4 linked regions of the Homo sapiens genome follow. The protein of the gene in region 2 purifies or fractionates together with the protein of the main gene of each other region. This does not show direct contact. Each region holds a gene or a part of one and is shown on either strand. Other genes may lie near its edges.

Evidence for each region.
Region 1: the proteins of TBC1D14 (region 2) and HEPHL1 purify together in Homo sapiens (affinity purification with mass spectrometry; 2 studies listed by BioGRID and IntAct, with this or other methods). This does not show direct contact.
Region 3: the proteins of TBC1D14 (region 2) and TRAPPC9 purify together in Homo sapiens (affinity purification with mass spectrometry; 2 studies listed by BioGRID and IntAct, with this or other methods). This does not show direct contact.
Region 4: the proteins of TBC1D14 (region 2) and GRK2 purify together in Homo sapiens (affinity purification with mass spectrometry; 2 studies listed by BioGRID and IntAct, with this or other methods). This does not show direct contact.

Annotation. Positions count from the first base shown.
Region 1 is NC_000011.10:94,069,046-94,073,363, reverse strand, and holds part of HEPHL1 (ferroxidase HEPHL1 precursor), read right to left. Parts: intron 2,991-4,318; coding exon 2,822-2,990; intron 340-2,821; coding exon 200-339; intron 57-199; coding exon 1-56. UniProt on the Homo sapiens protein: Is a copper-binding glycoprotein with ferroxidase activity. It oxidizes Fe(2+) to Fe(3+) without releasing radical oxygen species. May be involved in the regulation of intracellular iron content.
Region 2 is NC_000004.12:6,919,826-6,923,325, reverse strand, and holds part of TBC1D14 (TBC1 domain family member 14), read right to left. Parts: intron 1-3,500. UniProt on the Homo sapiens protein: Plays a role in the regulation of starvation-induced autophagosome formation.
Region 3 is NC_000008.11:140,374,235-140,378,552, forward strand, and holds part of TRAPPC9 (trafficking protein particle complex subunit 9), read right to left. Parts: intron 1-4,318. UniProt on the Homo sapiens protein: Functions as an activator of NF-kappa-B through increased phosphorylation of the IKK complex. May function in neuronal cells differentiation. May play a role in vesicular transport from endoplasmic reticulum to Golgi.
Region 4 is NC_000011.10:67,272,165-67,276,482, forward strand, and holds part of GRK2 (beta-adrenergic receptor kinase 1), read left to right. Parts: intron 1-4,318. UniProt on the Homo sapiens protein: Specifically phosphorylates the agonist-occupied form of the beta-adrenergic and closely related receptors, probably inducing a desensitization of them. Key regulator of LPAR1 signaling.

The sequences.
Region 1 (4,318 bases), on a different chromosome or scaffold from region 2:
TTTGTTGGCAAAGGTCACTAACAGGGTATCACCCACCTCTGCCTTGATGACTGGGCCTGAAAAAATATCCAGAAGAAGAGAGAGAAGAGAATGAAAAGAGACAGAAAGAAGTAAAGCAGAAGAGTCATTCTGTGCAGATGTACATGCCCAGCTAAAACATCTCCCTGGGTTCAATGCATGGGGGATGGTTTTACTGTACCAAGAATTCCAAGATGGGCTTCTTCAGCAGAGAGTCTCTTTCTTTTAGTAAAAGTTGCATCAACAAATTCAGTATACCGAACCTTCCAGTATTTTCCTCCTATTCTGTTGTCCCCTTGTGTGAAGTAGAGATCAGAGTCACTGAAAAGACATAGGAATGTGATTGAGGACACTTCTCAACATATCCACCAAATACTTTAATTATAGAACTTCATTCTATCACTTTTAGTCCACTCGCCCACCCATGTCCCCAGAAAAGACAGCACAGGCCTTGACAGAGTTCCCAGGAATAGTTAACCAGCCCTAAAAGTCTTCAGAGGCTGGGTGATACTCAAGCTCATTTCTCTCAGCCATTGTACTTTCTTCCCAAGAGGTCCAGCACTGAACCAGTCACAAGTAAACTCCTTATTTACCAATAGTAGAGTTCCAGAATGGTGTTCTACAAAGTAACAAAGAGCTAACTGGTTTCTCTGCAGAATAAGCATCCCTCTCTCTCTTGCTGATATTAATATGAATATTCTCTGCATCTAGTAAGCTCTTTGATTTCTGGCATTATTAAGGAATGGAGTGTCTAGTTAATCAAATAGTGTAATTATTGGAGGGCTACCATATAAACCATATGCATGAAATGCAAAATTTCCAAGTCGTGAATATGATAATATAAATTCTGACTAATACTGTCTCTATACTATCTTATTTCCATCAATGGTGCCATCACTCTTGCAGCCACGTAGATTTTCTTTTTCTGCTTCATTCCCTTAACTCATTCATCCTTACTTTGTAAAATTTTTTGGCACTCTTCCTTTTCTATCCTCCTTGTGCATCTTTTCTTTTCCTTTCTTCCCACTACCACGACCCCAGTTCATGCCCTAATCACACTGGGTGGAGCCCATTATATGAACCTCTGAACTGCATCCTCTATCTGATACTGGCTCATTCACTTTTCTTCTCAGCATAGACACACAACTATTAGATTGGTGCAAAAGTAAGCCATAATGGTCATAATGGCCAAGACCGTGATTACAAATTACTTTCAATGGCCAAGACTGTGCTTATTTTTTCACTTAATACATTAATCTCCAAAATGGCAATTGTTATTGCTATTTACCTGCTCCAAAATCTTCAATTGCTTCCAATTGCCAATCAAATAATGTTCAAAAAGATTAAAGGACCTCTGCAATTGATATCCCGTTTACCCCAATTCTCTATTTCTCCATGCCAGTGCCCATTCTTCTATGCAAATTGTTACTGCAGTCTCATCTGTTCATTCCTCCCATGCCACAGGTGCTTTGCATCAACCCCTCCATCTAAAATTCCTCTCTTCCCTATTCAGTTAAATAAATTCTATCACTCCTTAAGATTTTGCTTAAGTCTCACTTCCTCTATAATGTGTTCCCTGGCCAGCTTAGCTCTCTCTGAGCATCCAGATAACTCACTACCAGGACAACTCACCTCACTTTTATTTGTAACTTGCAGTTACTTCTCTACTCTTGTGAACCCAGCTTCTTCCTCTGCATTTTATTGCTTTAGATATCCTTGCATCCCTCATGTCATCTTGCACTTTGTGCTTTCATATATCACATTAAACATTGATTGAATATAGTTTAATCTTTCCTATTTCAGAAGGCACTTCAGAATTCTAGAAGGCTCCTAAGACAATTTTGAATGCTAATTCTCATTATTCTGTTTATGGAGAAATACTAGTCAATAGAGAATGTTGATATCAGAGTCTTTCACATATGGTTCACACAAATTCTTTAGACAGGGTTCAAGTGCATCCGTTTGGTAGAATAATGAGTGAAAGTATGAATGAATGAATGAATGAATGAATAAAATGTACAATTAAAGAAACAAATGATGTTTTATTGATCACAAAGAGAATTTTTAAAACATTCCCTTAAATATAAAAAAGGATTCTTGATATCACACTGTACATTTTTTAGTATCTTCACAGACAACTTTGCATATGATTATATACTAACAAGTCACAGGAGTCCAGATCCACCTAATAAATTGCTAGATTAATTTTTTAAATAGTATATTCTATGGGAGCGCAGAGAGAACATAATTCATTTATATCAAGAGTCAAAGGTTTCACTTCAGAGGTGACATTAGAGTAAGGCTTTGAAAGAAAAATGGCATTTTACTGAATAGAAAGGAAAAGAATATTTGTAGGACATAAAGGGGACACAACTTAAATCAGGATATCCTTGAACCAAAAAGGGTAACCCTCTTAGGCCAGGTCATCTCCATCTCCTGTCATTCCCTCTTCAAGACTGTCTGCTCCATATGTGTAAAGGCCTTACTCTATTCTTTGTCAGCTTAGTATTTCTAATGGCACTTTGCACTATAGTTTGCACATAGTGCCTACTCAAGAAATGTTTGATCAATGAGTGAATGATCTAGTGTTTTGATTCAGCCGTCAAGTCACAAAACAAAAAATATTCTACCAGTTCTCAGCAGTGCTTTTGCAGTATTAAGAACACCTTAAGCAGCTACATTATGCCATCTATGCAGTATAAGCTCATCAGAGCAGTGGTTGGAATACAAATTAGATCACAGAGAAAGCCTAACACATGCTTCTCTGACGAGAGGCTTAGAAACACCAACAAAGGGTGCTTACCTGCCAGAGGCGTTTAGAGGAAGACCACTGAATTTGTTATAGCCTTGAGGAGCATAATCCCAAAGAATTTTTTCAGCTGCTATAAAGTAGCGCCTCTGTTGACCCTTCATCTTGGGGTAGAAAATATCACTTTTGCAGTTATCAACATTGTATTGCCCCAGCATACCAGCTGCAGAACAGAGGAAAACCACGAGCTGAGGCATAAATGATCACAAAAGGAATCATATAGGAAAAGACTGATAGATTTGGCTCTTGAACATTTAGGCTTCTGTACAGAAAATTGGACCATAAAGAAAGTTTTTTTAAAAAGGATAAATGGCAACAGGAGGGATATTTGTGACACATATGACAAAAGATTAATACGTAAATCACTTTTACAGATAAAGATGAAAACAAGTAAATCTCCAATAGAAAATGAGCAAGGAACAGAAATAGTTTATTCACAAAATAAATAATATTGGCCAATAAACAAATGAAAAAGAGGTTCAACCTTAACAGTACTCAAATAGTACTCAAACCTTAACAGTTTTCAAATGATACTATTGTTCATTGATCAGATTAGTAAAGATTAGAAAGACTAATAATTCTCAGTGTTGGTAGATGAATGGGGAAAGAGCCATACTCATACACTTCGTGTAGAAGAATAACAATTTCCAAAAGAGAATGTGGCAATGTATGTCCATAGCTTTTTTAAAAAAATCATACTCTTTGACCCAGAAATTCTAAATCTAGGAGTTTTTCTAAGAAAATGTTCAGACAAAAGTGCAAACATCTATAAATAATAGTCATCAGTGCTGTTTATAATAGCAAAAAAATTGGTGGGAAACATAAGCATTAAGCAATAGAGTATTGATTAAGCAAGATGTAATCTCCTTATAATGGACACTGGAAGTATTAACCATGATGAAGTAAGCTCTATATTCACCGACATGAAAATGTGTTTCTGATATATTTGTAAATGAGAAAAATTAGCTACAGTGCAGCATTAATAGACTGATTTCATTTTTTAAAATACATATATATTTACATATTAAGAAATAGAAAATAGGGAAGATATTCACCAAAATGTGAATATAAAATATTTCTATTATGGAACTACTGATTTTAAAACCAATTTATAGGGGCCAGATCCAGTGGCTCATGCCTATAATCCCAGCACTTTGAAAGGCTAAGGTGGGAGGATTGCTTGGGCCCAGGAGTTTGAGACCAGCCTGGGCAACATAGCAAGACCCTGTCTCTATTTGTTAAAAAACCTCCAATTATATGTATTTTCTAATTTTTTTACAATAACTTTTTTCTGAAGGCATGGACAATTTAGAAATACTGTATTTCAGGGAACGTATAAATACTAGCTTATGTCCACAACTATCGGGCTAATTTAGCGATCTTACTAGTCTCAAATGGCAGCTAATATCTTGATTTTAAATCTACAGTTTCTTCCCAGATTTAACAGCATAAGACTCTTTGAGAATAGAAACCTTCTCTTGTTAATCTTTG
Region 2 (3,500 bases):
GATGCCACACCTCTGACACACAGCTGAAATGGTCTGATCTCACTTAAGGGAGAAAGCCTTGAAAAGGTTCCACATACCCAAGTTTTGATTCAAGTCCAGAAGCTAGAAGTGGTTTTTGTTTTTTGACACAGACTCTCGCTCTGTCGCCCAGGCTGGAGGGCAGTGGCGCCATCTGGGCTTACTGCAAACCTCTGCCTCCTGGGTTCAAGCGATTCTTGTGCCTCAGCCTCCCAGGTAGCTGGGATTACAGGCATGCGCTTCCACGCCCAGCTAATTTTTGTATTTTTAGTAGAGACAGCGTTTCCCTATGTTGGCCAGGCTGGTCTCAAACTCCTGACCTCAAGCAATCCACCCACCTCGGCCTCCCAAAATGCTGGGATTTTGGGCATGAGCCACCACGCCTGGCCCAGAAGCTAGAGTTTTAACATACACTGTCATGATATAACATAGCAGGAAGATAACCCAAACAAAGGATGCACCCGAAGTAAAAATAATCATCACGCTCCCTACCAGTCACATCTCCATCCCCAGGGCAGCACCAGGAGCGTGAGGACTGGGCTTGGGGGGCGGCGGTTGGGTTTTTTCTTTTGGGGGAGTGGTGAAATGATAATCTGTCAAAAGTATGTGAATCCATAACCCATACATAAGTCAAGGATCTACTTGTTCTGAGACAGCATTAAAATCCTAAGATATCTTCATTAAGACGGAAAACAACAACAAAATAAATTATGTATGCCATCTGCAGCAGCCAGGCCTCTCCACAAATGTTTCAGTCACGCTTACTCACATCTACGAGGCTGGGTGTAGTATCCCCTTTACCACGGAAGAAACCAAGGCTCGGCAAGACTAAGAAACGGGTCTAAGATCACACTGCTGTTTAACAGCAGAGCTGGGATCTACGGGACCCCAAAGGAGACCACACGTAGGTTAGAAAGGCTTGGTTTAGGATTACACAAACCCAGGTCAGAAGGCCAGCTCAGTGAAGATAATCAATAAAGGAAGAGTAAAGACCACAACCTCCGAGGTTTGAGTGAGTAGAGTCAAAACCGTCAGTGCGGCGTGGGCAACGTAACAAGACCCTGTCTCTACAGAAGACTAAAAAAAATCAACTGGGGGTGGTGGCACATGCCTGCAGTCCCAGGTACTCTGAAGACTGAGGTGGGAGGATCACTTGAGCCTGGGAGGTTTAAGGCTGTGGTGAGCCATGATTACACCACCGCACTCTGGCCTGGGTAACAGAGAAAGACACTATCTCTAAAAAAACAAACAAACAAACAAAATCCATTAATCACACGCACACATCTAAGGGCATGTCTAAAGTTCTCTGGCATGGCCGGGCGCAGTGGCTCACACCTGTAATCCCAACACTTTGAGAGGCTGAGGCGGGCAGGTCGAGAGGTCAGCAGTTTGTGAGCAGCCTGGCCAACATGGTGAAACCCCATCTCTACTAAAAATACAAAAATTAGCCAGGCGTGGTGGTGTGCGCCTGTAATCTCAGCTACTAGGGAAGCTGAGGCAGGAGAATTGCTTGAACCCAGGAGGTGGAGGTTGCAGTGAGCCGAGATCATGCCACTGCACTCCAGCCTGGGCAACAGAGCAAGACTCTGTCTCAAAAAAAAAAAAAAAAAAAAATTAGCCAGGTGTGGTGGTGCATGCCTACAATCCCAGCTACTCATGGAGGCTGAGGCAGGAAAATCACTTGAACCCAGGAGGTGGAGGTTGCAGTGGGCCAAGATCATGCCACTGCACTCCAGCCTGGGCGACAGGGCGAGGCTCCATTTCAAAAAATAAAAAAATAAAAAATAAAGTTCTCTGGCCTAACCAGGCATGGTGGCTCATGCCTGTGATCCCAGCATTTTGGGAGGTAGAGGCAGGAGGATCGCTTCGGCCTAGGAATTCAAAAGCAAGCCTCGGCAACAATGGGAGACTCTGTCTTTAAAAAAAATTTTAAATTAGCTGGGTGTGGTGGCACGTCTGTGGTCCTAGCTACTTGAAAGGCTGAGGTGGGAGGATCACTTGAGCCCGCCCAGGAGGTCAAGACTGCAGTGAACCCTGATAACACCACTGCACTCCAGCCTGAATGACAGAAAGAGACCCTGTCTCAAAAATAAATAAATAAAAAATAAAGTTCTCTGGCCTAAGACAAATGAGGAAGGGAGGGTATGTGGCACACCAGCCCGGAGAGCACAGCCCCAGCACACTGAGAACACTGGCATCAACTGCTATCTTTTATTTTTCTTTAAAATGGCCGGGTGCAGTGGCTCACGCCTGTAATCCCAGCACACTGGGAGGCCGAAGCAGGTGGATCACCTGAGGTCAGGAGTTCCAGACCAGCCTGGCCAACATGGTGAAACCTCATCTCTACTAAAAATACAAAAAATTAGCTGCACGTGGTGGCAGATGCCTGTAACCCCAGCTACTCAGGAGGCTGAGGAAGGAGAATTGCTTGAACTCGGGAGGTGGAGGTTGCAGTGAGCGGAGATCGCGCCACTGCACTCCAGCCTGGGCAACAAGAGCAAAACTCTGTCTCAAAGTAAAAAAGAAATCAGGTGGTGCATTCAAATCTGGTCCATACAAGAGAACAACAGAAAGAACAGGGCTTTGGACTCACACGCTCCTGGGCTCTATATTGCCTTGGGAGAATTAAATCAAGTACCACAAGAAAAGCATTTAATAGGCACCTGACCCCCAACAGGCACTTTGTTGGTAGCTGCTATCATCAAACAGAGAGGAGCTGAAGGTTTTCAAGCACAGAAGAAAGAATGATAACCACTCCTGCTTGGGCGTCAGCTTTTGTAAGGAGCCTGCACGCTCCTACTTTAGGAAGCCTGGCCTGCCTCAGTGTCAACACAGCAAAAGCAAATTCATTAAAAGCAGAAAAAGGGGAGCCAGGTGCAGTGGCTCATGCCTGTAGTCCCAGTTACTCAAGAGGCTGGGGCAGGAGGACCACTTGAGCCCAGGAGTTCAAGGACTCATAGCAATGAGCTATGATCACCACTGCACTCCAGCCTGGGCAACAGGGCACAATCCTGTCTCCAGAAAAACAAAGGAGAGAAAGGGAGGGGACTAATCTCCCTCCTTCCCAGAGATTGAAGGAGCCAGTAAGAGTGCAGCGCTGAGTCAAAAATAGAAATGTGAAGGAATTAAATGAAATGCAGAATTCAGAAATAGACTCAACTATATATAAATATTTGATTCAGCCTGGGCAACACAGTGAGACCCCCATCTCTACCAAAAGTAAAAATTAGCCAGGCATGGTAGTGCACACCTGTAGTCCCGGCTACTGAGAAGGCTGAGGCAGGGAGATCTCTTGAGCCCAGGAGTTCAAGACAGTAGTAAGCTGTGACAGCGCCACGGCACTCCAGCCTGGGCAACACAGCGAGACGCTATTTCAAAATAAATAAATAGGCCGGGCACGGTGGCTCACGCCTGTAATCCCAGTACTTTGGGAGGCCAAGGCGGGCAGATCACGAAGTCAGGAGTTTGAGACCAGCCTGACC
Region 3 (4,318 bases), on a different chromosome or scaffold from region 2:
GGACAGCAGCCAGGGACGGGGTGGAAGAGGACTGTAAAGAGGAGGCAGGGGTTGGCCGGGCGCAGTGGCGCACACCTGTAATCCCAGCACTTTGGGAGGCCGAGGCAGGCAGATCACCTGAGGTTGGGAGTTCGAGACCAGCCTGACCAACATGGAGAAACCCCGTCTCTACTAAAAAATACAAAATTAGCCAGGCGTGGTGGTGCATACCTGTAATCCCAGCTACTTGAGAGGCTGAAGCAGAAGAATTGCTTGAACCCAGGAGGCGGAGGTTGCAGTGAGCCAAGATTGTGCCATTACACTCCAGCCTGGGCAACAAGAGTGAAACTCCATGTCAAAAAAAAAAAGAAAAGAAAAGAAAAAAAGAAAAAGAAGAGGTGGGGGTACTTAACGCCTTCATCACAAATCTGGAAATGCCCAGACCTTCAGCTGCACCCACTATGTGCCAGACATGATCAAAGATGTTGGGGCAGAGAAGGGGGCAGAGAAGACGAATACTGATCTTAGCCAGTGCCTGTAAAGAGGTCACCATCTAAAATAAAGGTGACAGCCGGGGAAGGTCACATGCCTTGGCCACCAATGCGTTAGAACTCCCATTGATTCTTTCATGGAACCTATCTAAGATGAAAGGTTGTAAATAATACTATGATCAGTAATAATATTACTTCATTCCTCTTATCATTTCAGTGTAATAAGAAGTCAAATGATAAATACTACATTGCAAATGGAATTGACATCACTTTAAAGCCCTAAAACGGTTCCTTAATGGGAAAAGCTCGAGCGCAACTGCTTTTGGGCACTAGGCAGACAATTGACTGAGAAGCCATGAGCCCAGAGAGCCTCAGGACAAAGCCATGTTTGGTCGACACAGGCACCTATGGCACAAGGAGCCGGGGAGTACAAAATGGTCCCTGGCAAAGCTAGGCCAAGATCCTCAGGAAATCTTGAAATGAGATGAAATCCCCAAACTCATTTCCAACCTGCTGCTCTTTTAGGGCATATTAATCAGCACATCTTTGTTCTAATCTTTCAATAGGCTGCACAGTCACGAAGTCCAAGTTCAGGGCCCAGATGTTTATGTGAGGTTCCAACGAAAGTGGCTCCAAGACTACTCAAGACAAGGAGCTTTATTCACAAGGCAGACTCTGAGGGATCCAAATATTAACTCACCATTCCATTTCCAAGTAGAAAGTAAGTTTAGACCTGCTTTATTCTGTTAATAAGAAATAAAGTGACAAGATCAGAGGGAAACTCCAGACACAGGACTTGTCTCTGGCAGGATGGAGAGGGAGGAATACAGCCTGGAGCTGTAAAGTCCTGAGTTCCAGGGCCACATCTGCATATCCCTAAGAAACAGGGATCATCAAATCTAATTACGATTGTCAAAAAGACTCAATGAAATAATGCAAACACTGAGCATAAGCCTAAAACTCTCAGTGAGTGTTCAAGAAACAGAAATATCACTGTTAGTTAATGCCTTTGACACCACAAGTTCTAACCCCAAGTTAACCAGCCACTGATGCTCTAGAAAATGCCTTAACCCTCATCAGCCTTCTCAAACGTGGGCACTTGCAGTGATCAGAAGAACAAGTCAGTGACAGATGTGTAGGGGCAGCCTGGTGGCCGCACTCAACTAAATGATGACCGTGGGAGAATGCCGGATGGGAAACAGCAGGCCCCACACATTCCCAGGTTTGAAAACACACTCTGCTCCTCTCTCCGGCTATTTCCAGCCATAATTACATGGAGAGAAAATACATCTTCAAAATTATACAAACTTTCCATATATGTCTATCAAAAAAGTTTGTTAAAAACATAACCTACTTTCTCATATCCCGGAGTAGGGGTATGAGGCATGCACCAAGGATTTTCCTTTATAAAGCATCTGTCTAAAGTAATTGGATCCATTTTCAGTTTTAATCATTCAAAAGTAAGAATGAAAACAAAGCAAAACAAAACAAAAACTTCAATAAGACCTGGTCCCTCAAAACTTCATGAAGTAGTAGAGGAGATAGGTCCATAAAGAATCACAGTGTTGGAGGCCGGGCGCGGTGGCTCACGCCTGTAATCCTAGCACTTTGGGAGGATGAGGTGGGCAGATCACAAGGTCAGGAGATCAGGATCATCCTGGCCAACACAGTGAAACCCCGTCTCTACTAAAAATACAAAAAATTAGCCAGGCGTGGTGGCAGGCACCTGTAGTCCCAGCTACTTGGGAGGCTGAGGCAGGAGAATGGCGTGAACTTGGGAGACGGAACTTGCAGTGAGCCGGGATTGCGCCACTGCACTCTAGCCTGGGCACAGAGCAAGACTCCATCTAAAAAAAAAAAAAAAAAAAAAAAAAGAATCACAGTGTTGAGGCCAGGCAACGTGGCTCATGCCGATAATCTCAGCACTTTGGGAGGCTAAGGCAGGCAGATTACCTGAGGTCAGGAGTTCGAGACCAGCCTGGCCAACATAGTGAAACCCCATCTCAACTAAAAATATAAAAATTAGCCGGGCGTGATGGTGGGTGCCTATAGTCCCAGCTACTCAGGAGGCTGAGGCAGGAGAATCACTTGAACCTGGGAGGTGGAAGTTAGCAGTGAACCGAGATCGCGCCACTGCACTTCAGCACAACAAGAGCGAGGCTCCATCTCAAAAAAAAAAAAAAAAAAATCACAGTGTTGGGAAGAAGATGGATGGAGAGATGGCTGAAACAGGGATGCTGTGCCCTATGCCTTGGACAGATACCTGGAAGGTTCCTAGACTACCAGGTATACCCACCACATGCTAGAGGAAGGACACTTTGTAAACAGTCAGTGCCCTTGTTGAGTGCACCATCCAAAAGAGATGGCCAAGCAAAGTCCGCGCTTGACCCCTGATCACCTCAGTTCCAGCCTTTGATTCATTCTTGGATAACCTGAAAAACCCACTCCTTTGGCTTCAAGAAATACTGCCTATTTTACCATCTTTGGGTTTAGTGAGCAAGCGAGTTCATGTGTACTTTAAAGATGATTTGAACTCTGACTACAGCTTTTCTCCACATTCATCTTTCCATACCAGAGTTCTCAGTTTCTTTTTTTTTTCTTCTCTTTTTTTGAGACAGAATTTCACCCTTGTGGCCCAGGCTGGAGCGCAGTGGCGTAATCTCGGCTTACTGCAACCTCTGCCTCCCAGGTTCAAACAATTCTCCCGCCTCAGCCTCCTCAGGAGCTGTGATTACAGGTGCCCGACGCCACACCCGGCTACTTTTTGTATTTTTAGTAGAGACAGGGTTTCGTCATGTTGGCCAAGCTGGTCTCAAACTCCTGACCTCAGGTGATCCGCCTCAGCCTCCCAAAGTGCTGGGATTACAGGCATGAGCCACTGCACCCAGCCAAGTTCTGAGTTTCTTTAAGTCTGTTCTCCATAAAATCTAGTCCCTCCAATGACAACTCATGCAGCCTGAAATTAAAAGCCAATTAAACAAGACCATACACAGCTAAAACGTCCCCCACCCCCCATCACTCCTTTCCTAAACTCCTCTCCTGCCTGTCCGAAATAGACTAATGCCTTCCGCACTACACTACAAAACACTAATGATGTGTTGTCAGATTAGATGGACACGGTGGTGCACACCTGTAATCCCAGCTACTTGGGAAGCTGAGGCAGGTGAATCGCTTGAACCCGGGGGGCAGAGGTTGCAGTGAGCCACGATCACGCCACTGCACTCCAGCATGAGTGACAGAGCAAGACTGTCTCAAAAAAAAAAAATACTTTGGGATACTTAAATGAGACCTTGGGAGAGAGGCAAAGGCAGTGTATTTGGGGTCTAACATCTCAATCCAGAGCTTCCGTGAACCTTTTTCATGTTTTCTGTTCACTGATTCATTCAGAACGTAGCTTCTCACTCCAGAAGGACTTATGTTTTTCTGCCAGGAGTTTGTGGTCACTCTTATACCAGGACAACTTTAAACTAAACCCTCTTTGGATTGGTTTTGTTTCCTTCTGTAATGCTTAATACTAAGCGTCAACTTGATGGGACTGAAGGATGCAAAGTATTGATCCTGGGTGTGTCTGGGAGGGTGCTGCCAAAGGAGATTAACATTTGACTCGGTGGGCTGGGAGAGGCAGACCCACACTTCATCTGCTGCCAGCGCAGCTAAGAATATAAGCAGGCAGAAAATATGAAAAGACGAGGCTGGCCTAGCCTCCCAGCCTACATCTTTCTCCCATGCTAGATGCTTCCCCAACTAGAACATTGGACTCCAAGTTCTTCATTTTTGAGACTCGGACTGGCTCTCCTTGCTCCTCAGCTTGCAGACGGCCTATTGTGGAACCTTGTAATCATGTGAGT
Region 4 (4,318 bases), on a different chromosome or scaffold from region 2:
CGTCTCCTACAGCTCCTGGTCAGGGACGGGAGGGCAGCCAGGCCAGAGGCTGGGCACAAGTCAGGGTCCTCTGAGCCCTGCACCCAGCTCTTCCACAGAGGTCAAGGGGGGGATGGAGGGTGCTCTAGTGGAGGCCGTTTCTCAGGGAGCCTTTGGACATTTTCTTTGCCACGAACTCATTGTGGGCCTCGGAGCACGTGGCCCAGCCAGCTTCCTTGCCATCAGCAAGAGTGTGTTTGTCTCTGACTTGTCACCCCCTCCTGTCCACACAGCTACAGCCTCTGACCCCGAGCAGGAGACACCTAAGAGAGCCCAGGCCACAGAGGATGGCCTGGACTTTGCATTTCTTCTGAACCATGAGGTGCCAGAAGGGACCGGAAGTGCTCCCTCAGCACCCACTCCTTCCCTGTCACCCAGTGCTCAGTGCTGCAGCTGCTCACTGTCTTGGGCTGAGCCTGCTCCGGGAGCAGTAGGAGCTGGTGCAGGCCGCTGTAACTGCAGGGGTGCCAAGGTGGGACTGACTGCTCCTTCCCAAAGCTGGGTGGGCACCAAGTACCTCTGTGCCAAGGAGCCCTTGATACTTTGGCAGGGCAAGCCACGGGCTCTACCCACTGGGCCCGCAGTAGAGCAATGCAGTGCCTGAAGCTGGTCTGTGAGCAGAGGAGTCCCACCCTGCTCGGCTCAGCCCTGGCCACAGGCCCCATCCTCCAAGGCCCCATCCTCTCCGAGGACACGGCAAATGTGGAGCAGAGGCTTGAGCAAGACCAGTTACTGTGTGATTCTAGCATGGACTGTCGGTGAGCCGTGGGGCACTGAGAAATGGGGCTCTGGCGGCTCTCTCCCATGGCCCAGCAGGCGGGGCACGGCGGGCAGCATGGCCAGCCTGGCATATTAGAAGCCCTCCTTCTGCCGTGTCCACCCAGGCTTTGTAAATGGCCAGTGTGACGGTGGCGATTCAGCATCTCATTGACATCCTCATTTTACAGCTGGGGAAACTGGACATTTCAAGTTTGTGACCAGGTGGTGAGGGCCACTTGGAACCCAGGCACCCGTCCAACGGCCAGAGCAAAGGCAACTCTGAGGCCCTTGCCCAAAGGTGTTGGGAACCTTAGCGTCCTTCCATCTGGGACTGTTGAGGCCGCTTGGTTCTCCTGATGCTCCAGAGTAGATCTTGGGAGCCACGTTCCCCCGGATCTCAGGGTTGCTGACCTGGGTGGGGGACAGGGACACGCTCTGGGCTCACTGCCACTCCAGACTCTGCCAGTATCAGGGAGCAGTGTTGGAGACAAGGTGACCCAGTCCAGGAGGCTGTCCCACCCCTGTGCTCGCCCGTGCTTGCCACCCTGGCAGGAGCTGCCCCCAGTGGCAAGTTCTTCCAACCTGCCAGTTCCCTTGGCGGCCAGACCCATGGGAATAGACAGGAAACCCTAAAATTGCCACTTTGGGGGCCTTCCATTCAAGGACTCTGCTCAGGCCTGACCTCGTGTTTGGTTTCTTGCTTGGGGGGAGGGGGGTTGTTTATTTTATTTAAAAAACATTTTTTTCTTTTTAAGGAAGAAAGTGGAGTGCTGTGGGCTGGGAAGAATGTGGTGGCCATGCCCAGGCGTGGCTGCTGAGGGGAGAGATGGCCTCAGAGCCCCGGGTCCTGCTTCCTGCTGTTCCCAGGCCGGGGCTGACAGCAGAGCCCCTGGGAAGGAGAAAGGGCCTGCCCGGCAGGTTCCCCTGGCTGTCGCAGGCAGGGAACCAAGCATGCTTCCCCCTTGGAGACTTTGTGTGTCCAGTTGAAAAGTGGCAGTGGCTACTCCCTGGCTCCTAGGTGGCCATTCCCTCTGCCAAACTGGCACCTTTTTTTTTTTTTTTTTTTTTGAGACAGAGTCTCACTCTGTCACCCAGGCTGGAGTGCAGTGGCACGATTTTGGCTCACTGCAACCTCTGTCTCCAGGGTTCAAGCGATTCTTCTGCCTCAGTCTCCTGAGTAGCTGGGACTACAGGCGCACGCCACCATGCTGGGCTAATTTTTGTATTTTCAGTAGAGACGGGGTTTCACCATGTTGGTCAGGCTGGTCTTAAACTCCTGACCTCATGATTCGCCCGCCTCGGCCTCCCAAAGTGCTGGGATTACAGGCGTGAGCCACCGCGTCCCGCCAAGCTGGCACCATTTTTGCAGGCTCCTAAGAAGCAAGTCTGGGGCTCAGTGGGGCTTACTGCTGAAGCCCGGTGGCCCCCATTCCTGGGACAATGCCCGGCTCCTGGTGGGTGACCCCTACAGGCTGGGATTGCTTTGCCTGTCATCTGCATCTGCCTGTCGCTACCTTCCGCTTGACCAGCACCTTTTTTTTTTTTTTTTTTTTTTTTTTTGCTTTTTTTCATCCCCTTCTGTGGACCAAAATGTCCTGGCCCACCTCCCAGGTGAGATGCAGGCCCCTGACCTTGGGGTTTTCTCCACGTTCCAGTCTCCCAGTGCACAGCCTGTGCCCTGAGGGTCGCCCAGGGCCCAGGCCTCCTGTCTGCAGGTGCCAAGGGCAGGGACCGTGTCTTTCTCAATTCAAGAGATTTTTATGAAGCCCTTGCTGTGTGTGAAACACCACAATCTCCGTCCACCGTTTCCTGTGTCCCTGGGAGTCCCACATGCCGGGAAACATGTCCTTGACGGTGGCTGGTGGACATGAGCTGGCGTGTGGCCCGAAGGGGCGGGTGTGCTGGTGTGGACGCGGGGCCCATCCTCGGAGCTCCTGTCAGTTCTCAGAGGGCATCCTCACTCCCCGGTGGGGGGCATGGGCCCCCCTCTTCCCATCCAGGCAGGGTCTGTTCCAAAGCAGTCATAGGATGCGAACTCAGGGTCACCTAGGCCCATCCTTGTCTTCAGTGCCCTGCTTCCTGCTGGAGACAACTTTGGAAGAGGCCGCGGCCCCTCCCAGCCTCTGAGGGTGGGGAGCAGGCCAGGGGGTCGCGGCCTTGGAACCGTGCTCATGGCAGCCCTGCTGTGCTCGTGCTATCTCGCTCGGCCTTTCCTGAGGAAGGCTGGAACCAAGTGAGATCAGGGGCCGAGGCCCGGGAGTCCACTGCAGCCCTTCCTGGAAGGACAGTGCCCAGTGGAAGCGGATAAGAGCCCCCTCTCGAGGCCGAGGTCAGAGGCCAGGCAGGGTCCACAGGCCAGGTCCGCACTGTCTGGAGCTGCTCTCCGCAGACGGCTCTTCTGGCTGAAGCTGCCATTCTTCCAGACCCTCGGGCCCAAAGCCTGGAAGCCCTCACGGGGCTGGCCTCATAACCCTTCTCCCGGTCCCCGACAGCCTGAGCCTTCTCCCACCCACCCCCTTCCCCTTCTTCCTGCCCAAGTGTTGCCTCTGCCTGGGCTTCCTCCGCGTGGCGCCTCCAGTGGAGTCGGGCCACCCACCGCCCTGGACCAAGCCTCCTGAGTCCTGCTCTCCTGCCCACTCCTTGGCTGTGAAGCCCCCTGGTTTGCAAGGCCCTGCCCTCCGCCTCACCATGGCCTTTGTGTGCCCTCTCTCCTGCCCCATTGGCCCCTTGCTCATCCCTGGACATACTGTCCCCTGCCTGTTCCCACGTCTACCGACCCCCCTGGCTTCGCCAGCTGCCGAGATCCCACTTGCACTCCAGGAACCCAGTGGAGTTCCACCTTCTCCACACAGGCTTTCCAGACCCAGAGGCCTCCTCTCCTTCCCAAGGCTTCTGCACACGCTGTCTGGTATCACAGGCTCAGAACCATGCCCTGGGCAGGGCTGTTTGGAGCAGGGGGTGGCTTTGGCATGAGGTACACAGTGCCTCAGGGGTAGATGTGCAGCGGGTCCTCGTGACCACAGCCTGGGTGGCCAGTCCGACCAGCCCTGGGCTGGGCTCCTAGGGGCAGGCAGGGCCGGGGTGCAGAAAGGCAGGGGCCATGGCAAGCACAGAGAACCTGGACTTGCGGATCCAAATCTCCACCAGCTGCAGTCATTTCACGGGAGGCCTGCTGGTGGCCCCATAGACCTGCAGGGCCATGTGAGCGTGACATGGGCTCAGGTGTGTTGTCCCTTCAGGCCCCCAGCCTTGCAATGCCCTCAGCATGGCAGCTACACGTTACCCCAGGAGCCCAGACTAGTGAGGACCAGATGCAGGCCTCAGCTGGCTGTTGGGACAGACCGGCAGGGCTGGGCTTGAGGTGGGCCAGGAGAGGGCAGGAGGGGACAGTAAGGTGGTATTTGAGGCCGGGAGTGTAGCCTGGTGTGGCGCTCCCAGACAGCACTCAGTGTGGGGTGAGATAAACAGGGTGGGGGATGTCGGGTTGGGTTTTGAGGGTCACAATGGCCAGGCCCTCCCC